Linked DNA regions of Homo sapiens. The protein of the gene in region 2 purifies or fractionates together with the protein of the main gene of each other region. This does not show direct contact. Each region holds a gene or a part of one and is shown on either strand. Other genes may lie near its edges.

Region 1 (4,976 bases), on a different chromosome or scaffold from region 2:
CTGAGCCCTGTAGATTCAGTTTCCACTTCACAGGAAACACAGGGATCAGAGGGTTAATTAAGTTCAGTGATATCAGAGAAAACAAAATCAATCCAGAAGGTGAGACATCCTACAGGGCAGCTGGTCCAGCCTTTTTTTTTCTTAATTTTTTTTATTTACTTTCTTTTTTTTTTTTTTTTTTTGAGACGGAGTCTCACTCTGACGCCCAGACTGGAGTGCAGTGGTGCGATCTCGGCTCACTGCAAGCTCCGCCTGCCGGGTTCACACCATTCTCCTGCCTCAGCCTCCCAGGTAGCTGGGACTACGGGCGCTCGCCACCACACCCGGCTAATTTTTTGTATTCTTTTAGTACAGACAGGGTTTCACCATGTTAGCCAGGATGGTCTCGATCTCCTGACCTCGTGATCCACCTGCCTCAGCCTCCCAAAGTGCTGGGATTACAGGCGTGAGCCATCGGGCCTGGCCCAGCCTTTTCAACTCATGAGAAATGAAGAGCTGGGAGGGGCTGTCCCATGTCAAAGGAACTAAGGCACCACCAAGCACCACCACACGCATCATGGGGACTCTGACTGAATTCTTGTTTGAACAAATCAAAATATTTGGGGGACAAATAAACTGATTTGCTTTGTTCAGCGTATTCATAAAAATGTGGTTAAGTATGAAAACATCCTTATTTTTTAGAGTTGCATCCGAAGCATTTAGAGGTAAAATGTCATGACGTCTGTACTTTAAAATCCTTCCCAAACACAGCAAATAACAGATGGAAAAATCATTCTTCTTCTTAAATCTAGATAATAGGTATATGGGTGGCATATCACTCTACTTTTCTGAAGGCTTAAAATTTTTCATAGTAAAAAGCAAAAATCATAATAAAGAAGACAGAGAAAGAATAGGAGCACGGACTGCCCTCTCCAGAACCCCCTTATCCTGGGCCATTGCACGCAGTCACTTACTCAAATAATAATTGACTACGCGCCTACATTGCTAGGGCTTTGAAGTTCCATGAAGAAATCACAAGTGAAATTCAAAGCTGCACGAGGCTTCATGGCACTGTGAGGTCCGTGCCCAGCCCCAGCACTCTGCAGGCCTCTTGCACCTGCTCCTAGCAGGGAGGAGGAGCAGCCCACAGCTCCCGCATCGAGCTCCCGGCTCAGGCACTGAGCTCGACTCCTGCAGCCATGCTGCCCCATTACCCTCCCCAGCCTTCGGCCTGGAAGTTCCACAGAGCAGACCCAGTGCTGAAGCCCGTGGGACGCATCCTCACGTCTAAGAAAAGGCATCCTTCTATCATAACCAGGGATGTTATATCGGCTCCGAACATTTAGGATACCAGAGCTGGGCCAGTCAAGGGCATCCTTCTATCATAACCAGGGATGTTGTATTGGCTACAAACATTTACGATACCAGAGCTGGGCCAGCCTCATGGATCACCTAATATGATTCCCTCTCCATTATTTTACAGATGAAACTGCTGAGCTCAGAGAGGAAAAGGGACAAATTCAGTATGTCACAGCACTGCAGCAGCAAAAGAGCCTGGACCAGAATCCAGGGCTGCTGACCCGGGCCTGACTTCTTTCTTTTAGGCCACATGGCCTCCTGCCTCACTTGCAGCTCTGAACTCCCAGGGCCCTGGGGTGTGCCCACATCTGCGCCAATGCAAGACCAAGTTCGGATAGCAGAACTCCAAACAGGAAATGTCTCTTGTGCAGAGCGAAATGGCGAATGGCTCATGGGGCGGCCTCTTTGAAAATGGGTCATCTTTCTCTGACAGAACCAGAAGTCCGCTTCTCAGGGCCCACGTGTGCAGCTGGGGTTGGGGGCAAGGGGAAGCTGACCCAGCAGAGGATATTTAAGTCATGTGCCCGCTCCAAACTCATATTTCAGATTCCTCTGTCTAGCCAATCAGAGCACATGCCTGTCACTCACACTGCTCCTGTCTCTCTCAGTTCTATTTTCAATCTGGGCTTGTAGAGCTCAGACAAGTTCTGTCCTCCTTGGTCCCTGTGAGGGGAGGGGGTCCCTTGTTTGCTGCAGAAGCCTGTCCCACCCAACTTCTTCTGGGGGGTGAAGAGGAGGGAGGTGGAGGGACCAAGGAGGTCCCTTCCTCATGAAAAGCATGCCACTTCTCACACAGACCTCACGCTGGGATAGCTACAAAAGGCACCTACTCATTTCTACAGCAAATCTTTTTGTGTGGTTGCATTCGAGACAGCATTGTGAGGTTACTGGGCTAACTCTCATTCATCCTTCAGGTATCCAGTTAATTGTCACTTCCTAAGGAAAGTCTGCAAAACCCCAAGCCAGCATAGGGCCCTGCCATGTGCTCCCCCATCCCCTTCATTCCTGTCATTGTAATCATCACACCGTATTATAGCTGCCTGTTCATTTTCGCACCTTTCTAGTAGAGAACGTAAGCTCTGTGAGGGCAAGGAACCTTTGTTTCACTCAAGGAATCCCCAGTACCGAGCCCGGTGCTTGAATGTAGCAGGTGCTCAATTAACACAGGGAGGACTGGAATGAAAACCTTCCCTGAGGGGCTGCAGTCCATCCAACAAGGACAGCGGCCAGGGCCTAAGAAGTGTACGGGTCAAGTGCAGAGGGAGTTCCAAGGAGAAGGAGACATCTTCTAGCTTGGTTTCCTAAAGGAGGAATATTCGCAGGGACCCTGAAGAAGGCAGCCGGCCAAGATGATCTGGGGCAGTTCAGGTGGATGCAGGAGCAGTGTGAACAAGAGGCAGTAAAACGCAGGGTGGTTCCCGCACACTGCCCAGTCTGTCCGGAGCGCAGGCTGAGGAAGGGCAGGGCCAATGAGACATCTGGGCCACCTGTGAACACTCCGCCTGGGGAGCCACTGCCCTGTGAGCCAAGGCCCCTCGCTGGGAGGCATGAGCCCAGTGCCTGTGTTTTGCAGAGCATCAATAAAAGAAATTCTAGAACTTTGCAGCCCTTTTATAATTTTGCTGCAAGAAGCCCTTTTTTTTTTACATCATTCTTATATTCTATTTTAATAGTAGTCATTTCCTTTTGCTTTGTTCTCAGAGGACTAAGATAAGCTAATCACCATCCTTGGCAAAAGGAGACTTTGAAGCCTTAAAAAGGCTGTCTTGTGATACTATTTCCAAGTATCACAAGACAGTAAAAGTGGCATATCATCTGGGAGAGGGGCCGACGTGGACCACAGTGTGTGCCCTGTGAAAGCCTGGCACCACCCACACTCCCTGACCACCTGTGCTCTCATGCCCCAGTTGCTGTCAGGAAGCATGTGATTACACCGAATTATCTCTAGTTGTCAGGCTGGGATAAAATAGATCACATATATCTTAGGACCTAGGTCAGGGATGGCAAGTGAAAAGCAGGCCCACAGTGTCACAGAGGGGTAATTAAAGTAAGGACAGATGTGGCTCCTGAAGGGCTGCTGAATTCTCTCTGCTCAGAACTCTTCGATCATAGGGCATATTTGAGATCACTCATAACAAAGAATAGATAGCAAGCCAGACACAGCAAAAACAAAGTCGGCCTAAATTCACTTTAGCGAGTGAAGGTGGCTCGCGAGAGGGGCTCAGATGATAGGCACTGCAGTTAGGGCAGCAACAGAGCTCACAGGAGGCCAGCTCTGGCCATGAGGCCATCTGCTAAGGAGACTTCCAGCATAAGAGGCCGGAGGGCGTTGAAGGCCTGGGCTGTGGCTGGCACTGGGGCAGGTGCAAGAGACACTTAGGAGTTTCAATCCGATGCACACAGTGCCTGCTCCATCTCCTGCTCTCTTCTGCAGCTTATTATCTGAGAGAACTCCTAACAGGAAGACACTGCAGGGGAAATGCCAACCACAAAGGCCACAGATAGTGCTGTCCGTCCCTTGCGGCTTGAGGGAAAAGGAGCATTTGGTCTGCTTCCTCCCCCCGACAGTGCCACATCCTCCTGCCCACCCCCATCACTGGCCCGCTATCCACCAGCTATTTCCCCCACCAAAATTATTTTTAACTTTCATCTCCCTTTGAAGGTCACTAGGAGAAAGCACATTCAACAGTGGCATTAACCCCCACCCCAAGCTCTGTATGGGCCTGACCCAAGGCTGGGGGCTCCCAATGGACTCACCAATCCAGCAGCTCTGCCCCAGCCGCTGCCCTGTGAGCCAAGGCCCCTCACTCGGAGGCATGCGCCCAGTGCTTCTCGGGAAACCTGCCTTTTGTGATGGGAGGGGAGGAGGAGGCAGCAGTGACCTGCAGCCCCTGGGAGCCCACACAGTGCTCTGAGGTCAGAATACACCTATCAACTCCACAGAGCTTGGCCATGCCTGTCTACATGGGGAGACTGCAGAAGGCTGCAGGCAGAAGGGTGTCCATTTGGCCCCCAGAACCCTCTAACTGCCCATTTTTGCAGGGAGACGGGCTCCTTCGTGCTCTCCAGTCCTAACGGAATGGAGTTAAAGAAGCCGTGTTGCAGATGTTCCCACCTCCCCATAAACCACAGAAAACTTCTCTGTGCCCTGGTATCATTGGCATGGGCTTGGCTTAGGGCACCTGGCCAGGATTCTCCATACCACTTCCCAAAAAAGGTGTCATAGTCTGAGTTCCCAGAGAGCTGCGTGCTAGAACACTGGGAATGGATGGGAATGGTCTGCTGTGGGAGTAGCCTGCCGGTCCCAGCACGGGCAGGTGGCTCAGGACAGAGGCTCTGGTGCCCAGCAGATGTAAACTCCAGCCCCTACGCAGCTTCTTACCAGCTGTGTCACTTTAGGCTCCAGGACAGAAATGCTAAAGGGTATTGGTGGTACCGTGCAGTGGGTAGCTGGGGAGAAGGGGTTGGGGGTAAGTTCACAGAGGAAAAATGCTCATCTGCCTAGCAGCTAGAGAAATGCATTTAAAAATACACTTAAGGATTAGTTACACTTTTCTTGCCCAGAGCCTACAGAAATTCCAAATCGAATTCTCCTTAACACCAAGGTCACCTCCCCCAAACCCCCACCAGGGAGGGAA
Region 2 (4,976 bases):
GGGTGACAGAGTGAGACTCTGTCTCAAAAAAAAAAAAAAAAAAAAAACAAAAAAAAAAATTTAAGGCTGCTTTTCAAATATAAGCTATCTAACTAACGTGTTTATAAGCTCAGAATAGGAGTGATACCAGCAACAGCTAATATTTATTCAGTATTCTGTGTTAGGTTCAGTTCTAAGAATTTTACATGGATTACCTCAATAAAGAGGAGCTGTTATTATCATTCCCATTTTGTAGGTGAAGAGACTGAGGCTTAGAGAAATTAAGTAACATAATTATGCCCAAGATAATGTAGCCAATCAATGAACAAACTGAACTTGGATTTAAACCCTGCTGTGTGCTGCAGAGCCCATACTCCTCACCACTCTGTGTAAATCTTCTAATGAACGAATACCTTACATCAGTATCAAGTTTCTCTTTATATGCAAAATACCCACCTGGCTAAGATTTGTTTCTTATATAATATTCCTCTGGTTTTCCACTTTTATTTCTTTCTGATATTTCTGCTTTAGGCATTTGCCCCCAGCACAGCAAACGTTTCCTGAGAGCTCTAACCAAAGACAAACTTTTGGAAGCCAAACACTCAGGACCAAGACTATGTATCGATTTGAGTATGACCCACTACATGTCAAAGAAGGTAGAACATCCACTAAGCCTGGAATTCCTGCTCGCCATGAGGGAGGCCCAGAAGGGTACAGCTTTCCGAAGAATATGGTCAACTCCAGCTTCTGGGATTCCTTAGTAAACTAGTAAAGTGTTTGATTTTCTATACTGGGTTACTAAGTTCCAAGGTGGCTGTTGTAACGAACCTGGAAGAGAATATATATAGTTTGGTTTAGTTTGCAAATTTTTACCTTGTCTTCTGTTTTAAGCCCAACATCTTTGCCTCTCTGTTCATGATATCCTCAGTCTGGATGGAACCTTTCAGGTTCAGTTTTCCAGACACTAAACCTTTGGGAAGAGGAATATTTGCCTGGTAGCATGTTGTGGGAAGATTACCTGGTGGAAGAACTTTTTGCAATGTGTGTGTTTTTTGTTGTTGTTTTTTTGAGATGGAGTCTTGCTTTTGTCACCTAGGCTGGAGTACAATGGCAAAATCTCAGCTCACTGCAACCTCTGCTTCCTGGGTTCAAGCAATTCTTCTGCCTCAGCCTTCTGAGCAGCTGGGATTACAGGCGTCTGCCACCACGCCTGACAAATTTTTTTTTTTTTTTTTTTTTTTGGAGACAGAGTCTCACTCTGTTGCCGGGGCTGGAGTGCAGTGGTGCAATCTTGGCTCACTGCAAGCTCCACCTCCTGGGTTGACGCCATTCTTGTGCCTCAGCCTCCCACGTAGCTGGGACTACAGGCTCCTGCCACCATGCCCAGCTAAGGTTTTGTATTTTTAGTAGAGATGGGGTTTCACCATGTTAGCCAGGGTGGTCTCGATCTCCTGACCTTGTGAGCTACTGCGCCTGGCACACCCAGCTAATTTTTTTTCTATTTTTAGTAGAGACGGGATTTTGCGATGTTGGCCAGGCTGGTCTCAAACTCCTGTCCTCAGGTGATCCACCTGCCTCAGCCTCCCAAAGTGCTGCGATTACAGGCGTGAGCTACTGTGCCTGGCCTCAATGTATGTGTTTTAATTGATGCTCATTCACCTCATTGATGAAAGAGGGATTCCCACACTAGAGTTCTGGGAATGGCAGAATGCATGACACCTGACACTGGACAGATGAGATTCACAGCAGTTCATGAGTCTCATATACTTACAGCCCAGGGGAGGAAGATACTGTATACCATACAGGGCCACGTGGGGATTGTAATCAAGAACAGAATGAACAGCAAGGGGCTGTGTGAGGTGGGCTTTGTAGTATCCAGGGGTTGAGGTGCCCCCTGGTTACTATAGGAGGATGTGATTGGCTTGTTAGGAAAATTCCATGGGCTGGCAGGGAACCAAAACTCCTTAGGGATAAAGAGATTATGCCTTGGACCCTTGATGAAAAGTATTTAATTATTTATTATTAAGTTTTAAGGTACATGTGCACAACGTGCAGGTTTGTTACATAGGTATACGTGTGCCATGTTGGTGCTGCACCCATTAACTCGTCATTTAGCATTAGGTATATCTCCTAATGCTGTCCTTCCCCCCGTCCCCCGACCCCACAACAGTCCCTGGTGTGTGATGTTCCCCTTCCCGTGTCCATGTGTTCTCATTGTTCAATTCCCACCTATGAGTGAGAACATACGGTGTTTGGTTTTTTGTCCTTGTGATAGTTTGCTGAGAATGATAGTTTCCAGCTTCATCCATGTCCCTACAAAGGACATGAACTCATCATTTTTTATGGCTGCATACTATTCCATGGTATATATGTGCCACATTTTCTTAATCCAATCTATCGTTGGTTGGTTCCATGTCTTTGCTATTGTGAATAGTGCCGGAATAAACATACGTGTGCATGTGTCTTTATAGAAGCATGATTTATAATCCTTTGGGTATATACCCAGTAATGGGATGGCTGGGTCAAATGGTATTTCTGGTTCTAGATCCCTGAGGAATCGCCACACCGACTTCCACAATGGTTGAACTAGTTTCCAGTCCCACCAACAGTGTAAAAGTGTTCCTATTTCTCCACATCCTCTCCAGCACCTGTTGTTTCCTGACTTTTTAATGATTGCCATTCTAACTGGTGTGAGGTGGTATCTCATTGTGGTTTTGATTTGCATTTCTCTGATGGCTAGTGATGATGAGCATTTTTTCATGTGTTTTTTGGCTGCATAAATGTCGTCTTTTGAGAAGTGTCTGTTCATATCCTTTGCCCACTTTTTGATGGGTTTTTTTTTTTTTGTAAATTTGAGTTCATTGTAGATTCTGGATATTAGCCCTTTGTCAGATGAGTAGATTGCAAAAATTTCCTCCCATTCTGTAGGTTGCCTGTTCACTCTGATGGTGGTTTCTTTTGCTGTGCAGAAGCTCTTTAGTTGAATTAGATCCCATTTGTCAATTTTGGCTTTTGTTGCCGTTGCTTTTGGTGTTTTAGACATGAAGTCCTTGCCCATGCCTATGTCCTGAATGGTATTGCCTAGGTTTTCTTCTAGGGTTTTTATGGTTTTAGGTCTAACATTTAAGTCTTTAATCCATCTTGAATTAATTTTTGTATAAGGTGTAAGGAAGGGATCCAGTTTCAGCTTTCTACATATGGCTAGCCAGTTTTCCCAGCACCATTTATTAAATAGGGTATCCTTTCCCCATTGCTTGTTTTTCTCAGGTTTGTCAAAGATTAGATAGTTGTAGATATATGTGGCATTATTTCTGAGGGCTCTGTTCTGTTCCATTGGTCTATATCTGTTTTGGTACCAGTACCATGCTGTTTTGGTTACTGTAGCCTTGTAGTATAGTTTGAAGTCAGGTAGCATGATGCCTCCAGCTTTGTTCTTTTGGCTTAGGATTGACTTGGCAATGCAGGCTCTTCTTTGGTTCCATATGAACTTTAAAGTAGTTTTTTCCAAGTCTGTGAAGAAAGTCATTGGTAGCCTGATGGGGATGGCATTGAATCTATAAATTACCTTGGGCAGTATGGCCATTTTAATGATATTGATTTTCCTACCCATGAGCATGGAATGTTCTTCCATTTGTTTGTATCCTCTTTTATTTCATTGAGCAGTGGTTTGTAGCTCTCCTTGAAGAGGTCCTTCACATCCCTTGTAAGCTGGGTTCCTAGGTATTTTATTCTCTTTGAAGCAACTGTGAATCAGAGTTCACTCATGATTTGGCTGTTTGTCTGTTATTGGTGTATAAGAATGCTTGTGATTTTTGCACATTGATTTTGTATAAAAAGGATTTTTAAAGCTAGGAGACCTTATCTACGGGAGCAGAGTTGGGAGGGGAGCTTACTATTAGGCTATTTGAAGTATTCCCAGTTTTGACAGATGTCAAGGCAGTGCATAATACTGGGCCTTAATTTTAGGCCTTACATCACAGTATGTAAATTGTAAACTCTCTTTTTAGACATCTGTTTTATGTGCTAGTGTTTGCATATTTTTCAGATAAGTTAGGAAAACTGCAGATCTGAGGTTCCTACCTGAAACTTCTAACTCTAGTCCTCTGAAAATGTTAACCAAGAATTCCCTACTATTAGGCTGGGCACAGTGGCTCCTGCATATAATCCCAGCATCTTGGGAGGCCGAGGCAAGAGGATCACTTGAGGCCAGGAGTTCAAGACTAGCCTAGGCAATATAGGAAGACCCTGCCTCTAAAAAATTAAAAATTAGCCAGGTATGGTGGCCTGTACCTGTAGTCCCAGCTACTCAGGAGGCTGAGGTAGGAGGATCACTTGAGCCCAGGAATTTGAGGCTGTAGTGAGCTATGATTGTACCACTGCACTCCAGCCTGGGTAACACAGCCAGACCCTGTCTCCAAAAAAAAAAAAAAAAAAAAAATCCATATTGTTAAATTAAGATAGCAGATTAAATCAAACCCAGAGTCTTTTTCTCCTACCCAACAAATCAAGCCAAATTGTGAAATTGCTTTTATATAAGAGCATTGTCTGTGATTCAGGGTAAAAAGTTAAAACTTCCAACCCTATTGCATCTCCTGAAGTTAGGAAGAAGGTACCAAATTTATATGATGTTCTGTAAAAACATTTATGTATATTAATGAAACCTCTTTAATAACTTAAATAGTATTACATAAGATTTTAGATAAAAGCTAAAATAAGAATTTCATATATTAAACATTTAACAGCAGGGCCAGCAGGAGGGCGAATTCCGTTTTCCACTACCTCACTGTTTCTGGACTTGTATCATTATCTTTTGTCTGTAAGGTGTGATGCCATAAGGTATAATACACGCACACATGTACTCCTAGTACATGGGGTTTTCTGGAGTAGCGTTCAGTGAACTTATTGTAGCCATTTCTTGATAGCTAATTTAGAGTGAGTTGGCATGTTTTTGCCCTGAGTTGTTCTTATTTCTTTGAAGGAATTAAGTAGACTGGCTG
Region 3 (4,976 bases), on a different chromosome or scaffold from region 2:
CCTCCGCCTCCTGGGTTCAATTGACTCTTCTGCCTCAGTCTCCTGAGTAGCTGGGACTACAGGTGCCCACCACCACGCCTGGCTGATTTTTGTATTTTTAGTAGAGAGGGTTTCACCACGTTAGCCAAGATGGTCTCAATCTCTTGACCTCGTGATCCACCCGCCTTGGCCTCCCAAAGTGCTGGGATTACAGGCATGAGCCACTGCATCCGGCCCAGCCCTAGTAGTACTTTACCACTGAATTCTCAAGCAAAAAGTTCTTAACCTTCCCTTCTCACCAGTTGTGTGGATTTTGACTTTCTGGTATGACTCACGCGTCATTTTCTTTCCCCAATGTGAAGTAACATTTGGAGAAACAAACGCTTGTTGAGTTGAATTATCAAAGAATTGTAAGGAAGGGGCTCCTGTAGTGCTAGCTGCTCCAGAGGCTGAGGCAAGAGGATTGCTTGAACCCAGGAGTTCAAGACTGTAGTGTGAGTGCACTCTTGTTGTGCCTGTGAATAACCACTCCACTCTAACCTAGGAAGCATAGTGAGACCATGTCTCTTAAAAAAAATGTAGGAAAGATATTGCATGGGCTGCATTAAGGCCTTTAATGTGGTAGCTTTATTTCACAAGTAAGGGAAGCCTTGGAAGATCAGATTATCTTTATTGGGTTATGCAGTTATTGAATGGTGGAGAGGAGCCTAAAGCACATCTTTTTAGTGCAATGTTCTTTAATAATTATTACTAGTCTTACTAGAAATGGAAAGACTTATGGTGGTTCATTTTCCAATTTAGAATCCTTGTCTTGTCATTTCAGCAGGTGTCGCTTTAAAAAAAAAACCAGAATCCTCATCTGATTGGGTTTAAATATTGGTAGGGTTCTTGAGGACTGAGAGGGCAAAGGAAAGGGAACCTAGTTCTTAGCAAAGCAGAGAGTTCTAGGTGTGGAAGGCTGGATGGCAGAAGACCACAGTGAGGAAAAAAATGCTGTCAGCCGGGCGCGGTGGCTCACGCCTGTAATCCCAGCACTTTGGGAGGCCAAGGCGGGCGGATCACGAGGTCAGGACATCGAGACCATCCTGGCTAACACGGTGAAACCCCGTCTCTACTAAAAATACAAAAGATTAGCCGGGCGTGGTGGCACACACCTGTAGTCCCAGCTACTGAGGAGGCTGAGACAGGAGAATCGCTTGAACCCGGGAGGAGGAGGTTGCAGTGAGCCGAGAGCGTGCCACTACACTCCAGCCTGGGCAACAGAGCGAGACTCTGTCTACAAAAAAAAAAAGAAAAAATGCTGTCAGAAGCTGTGTAAATGAGAAGCAGTTGCAGGCTCAGAATGGTTTCTATGTCTTTTAAAAGGATCTGGTCTTAGGGTCAGGCGTGGTGGCTCATGCCTGTAATCCCAGCACTTTGGGAGGTTCAGGCGGGTGGATCACCTGAGGTCAGGAGTTCAATACCAGCCTGGCCAACATAGCGAAACCCTGTCTCTACTAAAAATACAAAATTAGCCATATGTGGTGGCAGGCGCCTGTAATCTCAGCTACTTGGGAGGCTGAGGCAGGAGAATCACTTGAACCTGGGAAATAGAGGCTGCAGTGAGCCAGAATCGTGCCACTGCATTCCAGTCTGGGCCACAGAGTAAGACTCAAAAAAAAAAATCTGGTCTGGGGTCAGCCACATCACTTAATTCTATGTGCATAACAATTATATCCTTGGGCTGAAGCTGTTCCCTCTACATTGTCACCTATGCTGAGAGTAAAGATAAGTACCAGGTTGTAAGGTATCCTGTTTCATTTTTCTCTGTTTCTCCTCATTTCTAACTCTCCTATTTCATACCTTCTGGTGGCATGTCTGAGAAGTATATTATGTCTAATGACCTTTCTCTGGCCCTACTTTGCTATCTTGGAAGTACAAAATGAACTTTTTTTTTTTTGAGACAGAGTTTCACTCTTATTGCCCAAGCTGGAGTGCAATGGTGCCATCTCGGCTCACCGCAACCTCTGCCGCCCATGTTCAAGCGTTTCTCCTGCCTCAGCCTCCTGAGTAGCTGGGATTACAGGCATGCGCCACCAAGCCCAGCTAATTTTGTATTTTTACTAGAGATGGGGTTTCTCCAGGTTAGTCAGGCTGGTCTCTAACTCCCAACCTCACATGATCCACCCGCCTTGGCCTCCCAAAGTGCTGGGATTACAGGCTTGAGCCACTGCACCTGGCCTAAAATGAACGTCTTTATAGGTAACATCCAGACCCTGCAGTGAGTTAGCTAGGGAGATGAATGTTGAATTTGGGAAAAGGCATGTATTACGTGTAACTTCACTCTTTTTTTCTGACTTCTCCCTGTAAATCTTCTTCTGTATGATTTATTTTGGTAGATTTAGATAGGTCTTCTGGCCATGGTTGTTGAGATGTTTGTTATTGAAAGATCAAAGGATAGCTGTTGCTTAATGGTAAAACAAATTTCCAACAGGCTCAGTTTTAGTTCCCTTATTCCTAAAGTATAGATAACACAAAAGCAAGAATTTTGTTTTTAGAAAATTAGCTACTTTGACAAAAAACAACAAAATTTGTGGTACAGTATTATTTATTGAACCACTTTTTTTTTGAGACGGAGTCTCCCTCTGTCGCCCAGGCTGGAGCGCAGTGGCGCAATCTCTGCTCACTGTGACCTCCGCCTCCCGAGTTCAAGCGATTCTCCTGCCTCAGCCTCCCGAGTAGCTGGGACTACAGGCGCATGCCACTACCCCGGCTAATTTTTTGTATTTTTAGTAGAGACGGGGTTTCACCATGTTAGCCAGAATGGTCTCGATCTCCTGACCTCGTGATCTGCCCACCTCAGCCTCCCAAAGTGCTGGGATTACAGGCGTGAGCCACCATGCCCAGCTGAACCACTTCTTACAGTTGTATCAAGAGAGTAGCGGCTGGGTGCAGTGCCTCAGTCTTGTATTCTCAGCAATTTGGGAGGCTAAGAATGGTGGATCACTTGAGGCCAGGAGTTCGAGACTAGCCTGGCCAACATGGCGAAACCCCGTCTTTACTAAAAATACAAAAATTAGCCATGCATGGTGGCACAGGTCTGTAATCCCAGCTACTCCGTAGGCTGAGGCAGAAGAGCCGCTTGAACCTGGGAGGCAGAGACTGCAGTGATGCCCCATATCATATATGGAATGCATCCCCATTTACACCTAAAATTTGAAACAGAATCTGAGAAACAAAATATTTCTAATCTCCTTCCTGATCCTCTTCACTGATACCAGGTTTGCAGAAAATATAAGGCCAGCTCTTATCTTTTGAGAGAAGACTCTTATTTCTTTGTCTAAGATTGTCTATACCCCTTTTTATCTGCCTCTTTTAAAAATCCTTGTCCAGCCACTATATTTTTAATTTAATCAACACTCAGTTTTTGCTTTTCCTGTTTTTTTTTCTGTTTTTTGTTTGTTTGTTTGTTTGTTTGTTTGAGACGATGTCTCGCTCTTGTCCCCCAAGCTGGAGTGCAGTGGCATGATCTCGGCTCACTGCAACCTCCGCCTCCCAGGTTCAAGTGATTCTCCTGCCTCAGCCCCCCGTGTAGCTGGGATTACAGGCACTTGCCACCACGCCTGGCTAGTTTTGGTATTTTTAGTAGAGACGGGGTTTCACCATGTTGGCCAGGCTGGTCTCGAACTCCTGACCTCAGGTGATCCACCCGCCTCTGTCTCCCAAAGTGCTGGGATTACAGGTGTGAGCCACCACACCCAGCCCACATACTACTTTTATGGTTCTCTTTTTGTTGGTGACTGGCATTTTACACAAACCTATTTCCTGGGTCGAAGTGTTAATATTAGAGAGCCGGAGAGTGGTCAGTGTGACACCCTGTGGTTTCAACCCTGGCTGCCTATTAGGATCACCTAGGGAACGAACCATCAAGAAAACAAAACTAATGCCAGGGCCCAATCTGAGATGAATCAGAATCTCCAGGGGTTGCAACCTGGATGGCAGCATTTTAAAAAACATACCATGAGATTTCACCAGGATTGAAAATTATTATAATAGACTTGTAGCCTCCTGGCTGGGCACAGTGACTCATGCCTGTAATCCCAGCACTTTGGGAGGCTGAGGGGGGCGGATCATTTGAGGTTAGGAGTTCAAGACCAGCCTGGCCAACATGGTAAAACCCCGTCTCTACTAAAAATATAAAAATTAGCCGGGTATGATGGTGCATACCTGTAATCCCAGCTATTCGGGAGGCTGAGGCAGGAGAATCGCTTGAACCTGGGAGCTGGAGGTTGCAGTGAGCCGAGATCGCGCCACTGCACTCCAGCCTGGGTGACAAAGTGAGACCCTGTCTCAAAAAAAAAAAGGCTTGTAGCCTCCTTAAGGACAGAAACCTATGCTTTTTCATTTGTGTATCTCTTGGATTTACCAAAGTGTCTGGCACATCCAAAGCTCTCATTAAATGTCTACTTAATGAACATAAATGTTCCTTTATCTTTTTTGTCACTTATTTAATGTTTGTCAAACTTTTTTACTGAAGTGTCGTTAACAGCAGAGGAGAGTGAATGAACTATAGGGGTTCTGCTACTATAAGCAAACATGGAATTTCTTTGAAGCTTCCCTAAATTAAAATGTAAGGTGAACTTCGTATTCGTTGCCATTGCATCTGTTTTATGGGTAACACCCCCACTCCTTCGAGTTAAAATTGGTGCCTCCAGGCAGATGCATCAAATTTGTCCAGAAACTTGTATCCTTTGGCATTCTGTTAATTACCCTGGTTAAGAAGCACAGTATTACCTTTTCTTCAGGGATTAAAACACCAAAGTAGGAGTAGGATTTGGAAAAAAGCAATTTACATTGCTTAAAAAGAAAAGAATTATATTCTTTTCTTTTTAAGAAAGAAGAGGAGTGGTTAGAAAAATAAATTTGGCCAGGCGCGGTGGCTCACCCCTGTAAGCTCAGCACTTTGGGAGGCCGAGGCGGGTGGATCATCTGAGGTCAGGAGTTCAAGACCAGCCTGG
Region 4 (4,976 bases), on a different chromosome or scaffold from region 2:
CTCACTCTACCCTCCCCTGCCTCTTACCTCCACAGAAACAGACTTTGAGTCTCTGCATCTTTGGGGCTTTCAGGCCCTCATTTAGGGACCTGAACCAGGGCCCTCCTGGCATCAAAGGTCTCCTCTTGAACATCCTCAGGGGCTAGATCCAAAGATGCATCTTCCTCACAACCTTTCCCCAGTTTTCCAGGATAAGGGTGGAGGCAGGTAGCTCTATGTTGTCAGACTTTGGACTGAAAACAGAGCCATAGGTGGGGGAAAATAGGGAAGGAGAGAAAGGAACAAGGCGCTTACCTTTTCTGGATCTCTGCCCCCAGAGGAGAAGAAGGGACCTGGTGGCGGCGCCCCAGTCCGCCTCCGCAGCACGAGCCGCAAGGACTCCATCTCAGAGGATGAAATGGTGCTGCGGGAGCGAAGCTACGACTATCAGTTCCGCTACTGCGGCCACTGCAACACCACCACGGATATCAAAGAGGCCAATTTCTTTGGCAGGTCCGAGGCCCTGAAGAGGAGGGTGCAGCCCAGTTGGCAGCGGGAGGTTGAGTGGGGAGTGTTGGGGCATAATGGTTTCAGAGAAGAATCTCAAATCCCTGCTCTGCCTCTGTACCCTTGGGCAAATGGCTTCACCTTTGTCAGCCTCTAAAGTTTTTTAATCTATGAAATGACCAACCTGCCATGCCCATTTATGAGGCCATAACAAGGACTAATAAGATAACCCAAGTAGAGCCTCCAGCGCAGTGCCTGAACTACTCCTTCATCCCCCACCTCCTTCTCCCTCTGTCTGCATGTGCCAGAGCTTGGTTTCTTTATCTGCATTCAAGGAACCTCCCTCTGCTTGAGAGTATGAGGCAGCAGCCCTCCAAGGCTGGGAATCTTGGCACATCTGTTTTGTGCTCAAAACTGTGCCCTGTGTACTAAGGGACAAACTCTGTGTTTCAGACACCATCATCCCCACCCCTCATTTGTAGATGTACTTTCTTTGGGTAGGTGAGACACATGAACATGAATCAAGAATCTCTCCATAGGCCAGGCACAGTGGCTCATGCCCGTAATCCCAGCACTTGGGGAGGCTGAAGCAGGAGGATCGCTTGAGCCCAGGAGTTTGAGACCAGCCTGGACAGCATAGACCCCCATCTCTACAAAAAATGTTTTAAATTATCTGGGTGTGGTGACGTGCACCTGTAGTCCCAGCTATTCAGGAGGTTGACATTGGAGGACCAGTTAAGGCCACAGTGAGCCATGATCATGCCACTGTACTCCAGCTTGGGTGACAGAATGAGACCCTGTCTCTAAGAAAAAAAAAGAATCCATCAAGATGCCCTCTAAATGTCAGTGGTGTGTGAGGGGCAGGGGGAGTCTGGATGCCAGAAGCCTGGAACTGCTCAGGGGAGGCTTAAAACAGGGTATTTTGGAGACCCGAGAGATGATGTAAGATGATCCTGGCCCAAGGAGGTAATAATGAACTATAGGGGAGACTGTCTTGGAGAAATCCAGGTAGTCGCTGGCCCTAGGTTTAAGAGAACAGTGACCAGGGCTATATACCTGGAGGAATTCTGGGTCAAGTGCACACCCCAGCGTGTGGGGGACTGAGTGGCTGCAGACTTCCTTGCTCCCCCTTTACCTAGGCCATGCAGCCTCTACTTGAGGCTGTAGGGCAGTACCCCACCTGACCTCCCTGCCCTTTGCCCCCCCGCCAGCAACGCTCAGTATATCGTCAGTGGCTCTGACGATGGCTCCTTCTTCATCTGGGAAAAGGAGACCACCAACCTGGTCCGTGTGCTCCAAGGGGATGAGTCCATTGTCAACTGCCTGCAGCCACACCCCAGCTACTGCTTCCTGGCCACCAGTGGCATCGATCCTGTTGTGCGGCTCTGGAACCCCCGACCAGAGGTGAGGGTGCAGAGCCAAGCAGAGAGGAGGGCAGGGACTCTGTGGAAGGCTCCAGTGGAGCCTGCTAGCGCAGGGAAGAGAAATGAGCCACCCAGAGGCTAGAAGCTGCTAAGTAAGCCTTACCCCGGGGCCCAAGGCTGTGTTCTCAGATTCCAGAAGCTCCAAATGCAGCAGCAATTCTCCAGAAGCTGTGCAGAGGCCCTGGTCACAAGGGAACTATGCAGGCTTTGGCATCTGGTAGGCCTAAGTTTGAATCCAGTCTCCTCACTCGCTGCCTGAGAGACTTCACCATCTCTGACCCAGGCTTTTAATCATCTGTACATTGGGAATGGGAATGACAGCACCACCTTGAAAGGTTGTGGTGAGAAGTAAAGAAGAGATGCCTGTGAAGTGTCCAGCCCACAAGGACACTTAGGACAGTGGAGTCCCCTCCACTCCCAGGGTGGGTAGCCAGGGAAGCTGGCTTGGTGCCTCCCCTTCCCCTCTGCCCTACTGCTTCCCTCTTCCCAGCTGGCAAAACAAAAGTCAAGTGGTATGTCTGATTCCCAAGATAATTTGCTGTGACTTTTAAAGAGAGGACCCCTATAGGCTTCCCCATTGAGAGGAGAGGAGAAAGAAAGATGAAGCAAGAGTTGTGGCAACAAAACAGAATGGGGTGGGGAAGTTGTATCTGCCCCTTGTCCCAGGTATCCCAGTATGTGTGTCCAACATATCCTGGTGTGTACTGTCCCCCACGTATATCCCAGCATGTTATGACCTGCCTGTATATCCTGAGGTGGCGTATCTCCCATATATATTCCAGCGTGAGCACCCCCAACAATATGTAGCCAAGGTTGTGTGTTCCCCTCCACCATATACACCTCCTGGCATGTATGTGTACCTCCCCCTATAGATAGTTTAGTCTGTGTATTTCCCTCCCCCTCCCCTATACGTGTACCCTGGTGCCTCTCCCTCCCTGAGCCCCACGTGTGTCACCCCTTTCTCCACCACAGAGTGAAGACCTCACAGGCCGAGTCGTGGAAGATATGGAGGGTGCTTCACAGGCCAACCAGCGGCGCATGAATGCAGACCCGTTGGAGGTGATGCTGCTCAACATGGGCTACCGGATCACGGGCCTGAGCAGTGGGGGTGCCGGGGCCTCTGATGATGAGGACAGCTCTGAGGGCCAGGTGCAGTGCCGGCCCAGCTAGACCCTCCAGCCCTGGTCCCCAGCCCCTGCTACTGGCTGGACCCTCTGCCCTGGGCAGGAGGTCAGGGGATTCTGTTTTGGTTTGTCTTCCCCACCACCCTTTTTTTTCATTTCCCCTGTTTTGTTTGTTAGTTTGGCGTTAGGGGTGGAGGTTGCTACAACTTGCTGGCTTTCGGACTCTGGGCTGATTGTCCCCTGACTATCCCCAGCCCTGAAAAAAAGAGCAGGAGGGGACACCCCTCCATATGCCCCCCCCCATCTCCTGCTTTCATGTCCCTGGAGGGCTCTGGCCTGCCTCAAAACCCCTTCTGCCTCAGGTGGGGAGGAACAAGCTGAACTGTCTTCAGGGACTGTCCTGCCCTTTAGCTGGCAGCAGCAGGAGGAGTGGGATTCCCAATTGGTAAGGGCTCGCCTTGGCCTGTTGCCACTCTTGCTCCCTAGCCTGCAAGGCTAGCTCCCCTGTGGTCTTCAGGAAAGGTTTTGAAAAAGGATGGGTCCCACCCTCCCTCCAGAGCCACCAGTGTTAGAGCGGAGCCCAAAGGAAGGATGGGAGCCCTGGAGTGGGCAAGACCAGGCCACCTGCTGAGGTCGCTGTGGAGCACCCTCGCTCCTCTCCTGGCTACTAGCTCTGGCCCTGCACCTACTCTCACTGGCCACCTCTGGAGGCTCTGCCTTTCCCAAGGGCCCTGGCAGAGGGTGGGGCACTGCACCTTACCCCACCCATCCATGCCAGCACTTCTGCACTACGGCCATTCTCCTCTTGGGCGCTCCTCAGCCTCACTGTGACCTTTCTGCCAGAGCTCCCAGCCAGGCCTACTCTGCTGAGGTGGCGCTTCCTGCTAAGGGCCCTTCTCTGCCCTTTCTGCCCTCCTTCCCATCCCACATGCTGAGCCGCCACAAAGACCAAAGAAGTGATGGCTTTTCTCTGTCCCCTGCTGCTCTGAGGGGAGAGGGGTGGGTCTCCTGAGCCACTCAGATGGGAAAGTCCCTTACTCGGCCCCTCCCTCCCCAGCAGCCCCAAGCTTTACACTGGATGCAGCGATCAACCCACCACTCACCAGGCCTCTCCTCCCCTCTGCCCCCGGCTCTTAGCTCCAGCTGCTCCAGGTAGTTGGTTCATCCTTCCCCCTCTCTCCCTCCCTGCTTCCCCTTCAGTGCTTACTTGGCTCCAGCCCTCCAGCTGCAGCCCCTGGGGAAAAGCAGCCTCCCTTCTCCTCTCCCTCCACTCCCTCGCTCCCTCCCTCAGCCCCTGTCTCTGCCAGGTGCCTCCTCTCAGTCAGGCTTCAGAGCAGCCCTGGAGACAGGAGGGCCATGTTAAAAGCTTTTTCACAGTTTTAAGAAGACAAGTGGAGGGTGAGGATAGTGGTGGGGGGTCTGGCACCATCTCATTGCTTTAATCCCAGCAACACAGGTGGCAGCTTCTCCCCCTTCCTTCCCACCCCAGTCCCTCTTCCCACCCCTCTCTTCTAGCTTGGTAATGAAGTATATTTATTGGTGAAGGAAACAGCTGCTGCTGCTTCTCCTGCTGCTGGGACCTGCTCCCCTGTCTCTTCTCCGTGACCTTTCTCTAGCCAGGGAGAAGGGAGAGCAGGAGTATTGGGGCTGGGCCCTGGGGCCCAAGGACCAGCTGGGTCCCCTTTGCTTTCTTGTGTTCCAGCCACCTGCCATTTCCTCCCTGCCTCCCACCCTCCCTCCCTGCCCCCTGTCCTGCTTCCCACCCCCTGCCTGCCCAGCCTGGGCCCTGCAGTGTGGAGAGACACATAAGCCTTACTGTCCTCTGGGGGCAGGAGCCGAGCCTTTTTGTTGCTCCGCTCCCAGGAGAGTGAGGGTGACGCAATTGATTAAAACCATTTTGTTCTAGGTGTGGCTGGTGGCATTTGTGGGGTGCAGATGGGTC

The links.
Region 1: the proteins of TRMT10B (region 2) and TUBA8 purify together in Homo sapiens (affinity purification with mass spectrometry; 3 studies listed by BioGRID and IntAct, with this or other methods). This does not show direct contact.
Region 3: the proteins of TRMT10B (region 2) and MRPS21 purify together in Homo sapiens (affinity purification with mass spectrometry; 3 studies listed by BioGRID and IntAct, with this or other methods). This does not show direct contact.
Region 4: the proteins of TRMT10B (region 2) and WDTC1 purify together in Homo sapiens (affinity purification with mass spectrometry; one large-scale study listed by BioGRID and IntAct). This does not show direct contact.

Annotation. Positions count from the first base shown.
Region 1 is NC_000022.11:18,112,981-18,117,956, reverse strand, and holds part of TUBA8 (tubulin alpha-8 chain), read right to left. Parts: intron 1-4,976.
Region 2 is NC_000009.12:37,763,119-37,768,094, forward strand, and holds part of TRMT10B (tRNA methyltransferase 10 homolog B), read left to right. Parts: exon of another isoform or gene 1-510; coding exon 511-635; coding exon of another isoform or gene 636-740; exon of another isoform or gene 741-747; intron 748-1,487; exon of another isoform or gene 1,488-1,506; intron 1,507-4,957; coding exon 4,958-4,976. UniProt on the Homo sapiens protein: S-adenosyl-L-methionine-dependent guanine N(1)-methyltransferase that catalyzes the formation of N(1)-methylguanine at position 9 (m1G9) in tRNAs. Probably not able to catalyze formation of N(1)-methyladenine at position 9 (m1A9) in tRNAs.
Region 3 is NC_000001.11:150,296,033-150,301,008, forward strand, and holds part of MRPS21 (small ribosomal subunit protein bS21m), read left to right. Parts: intron 1-4,976.
Region 4 is NC_000001.11:27,303,304-27,308,279, forward strand, and holds part of WDTC1 (WD and tetratricopeptide repeats protein 1), read left to right. Parts: intron 1-317; coding exon 318-492; intron 493-1,697; coding exon 1,698-1,890; intron 1,891-2,882; coding exon 2,883-3,080; 3' UTR 3,081-4,976. UniProt on the Homo sapiens protein: May function as a substrate receptor for CUL4-DDB1 E3 ubiquitin-protein ligase complex.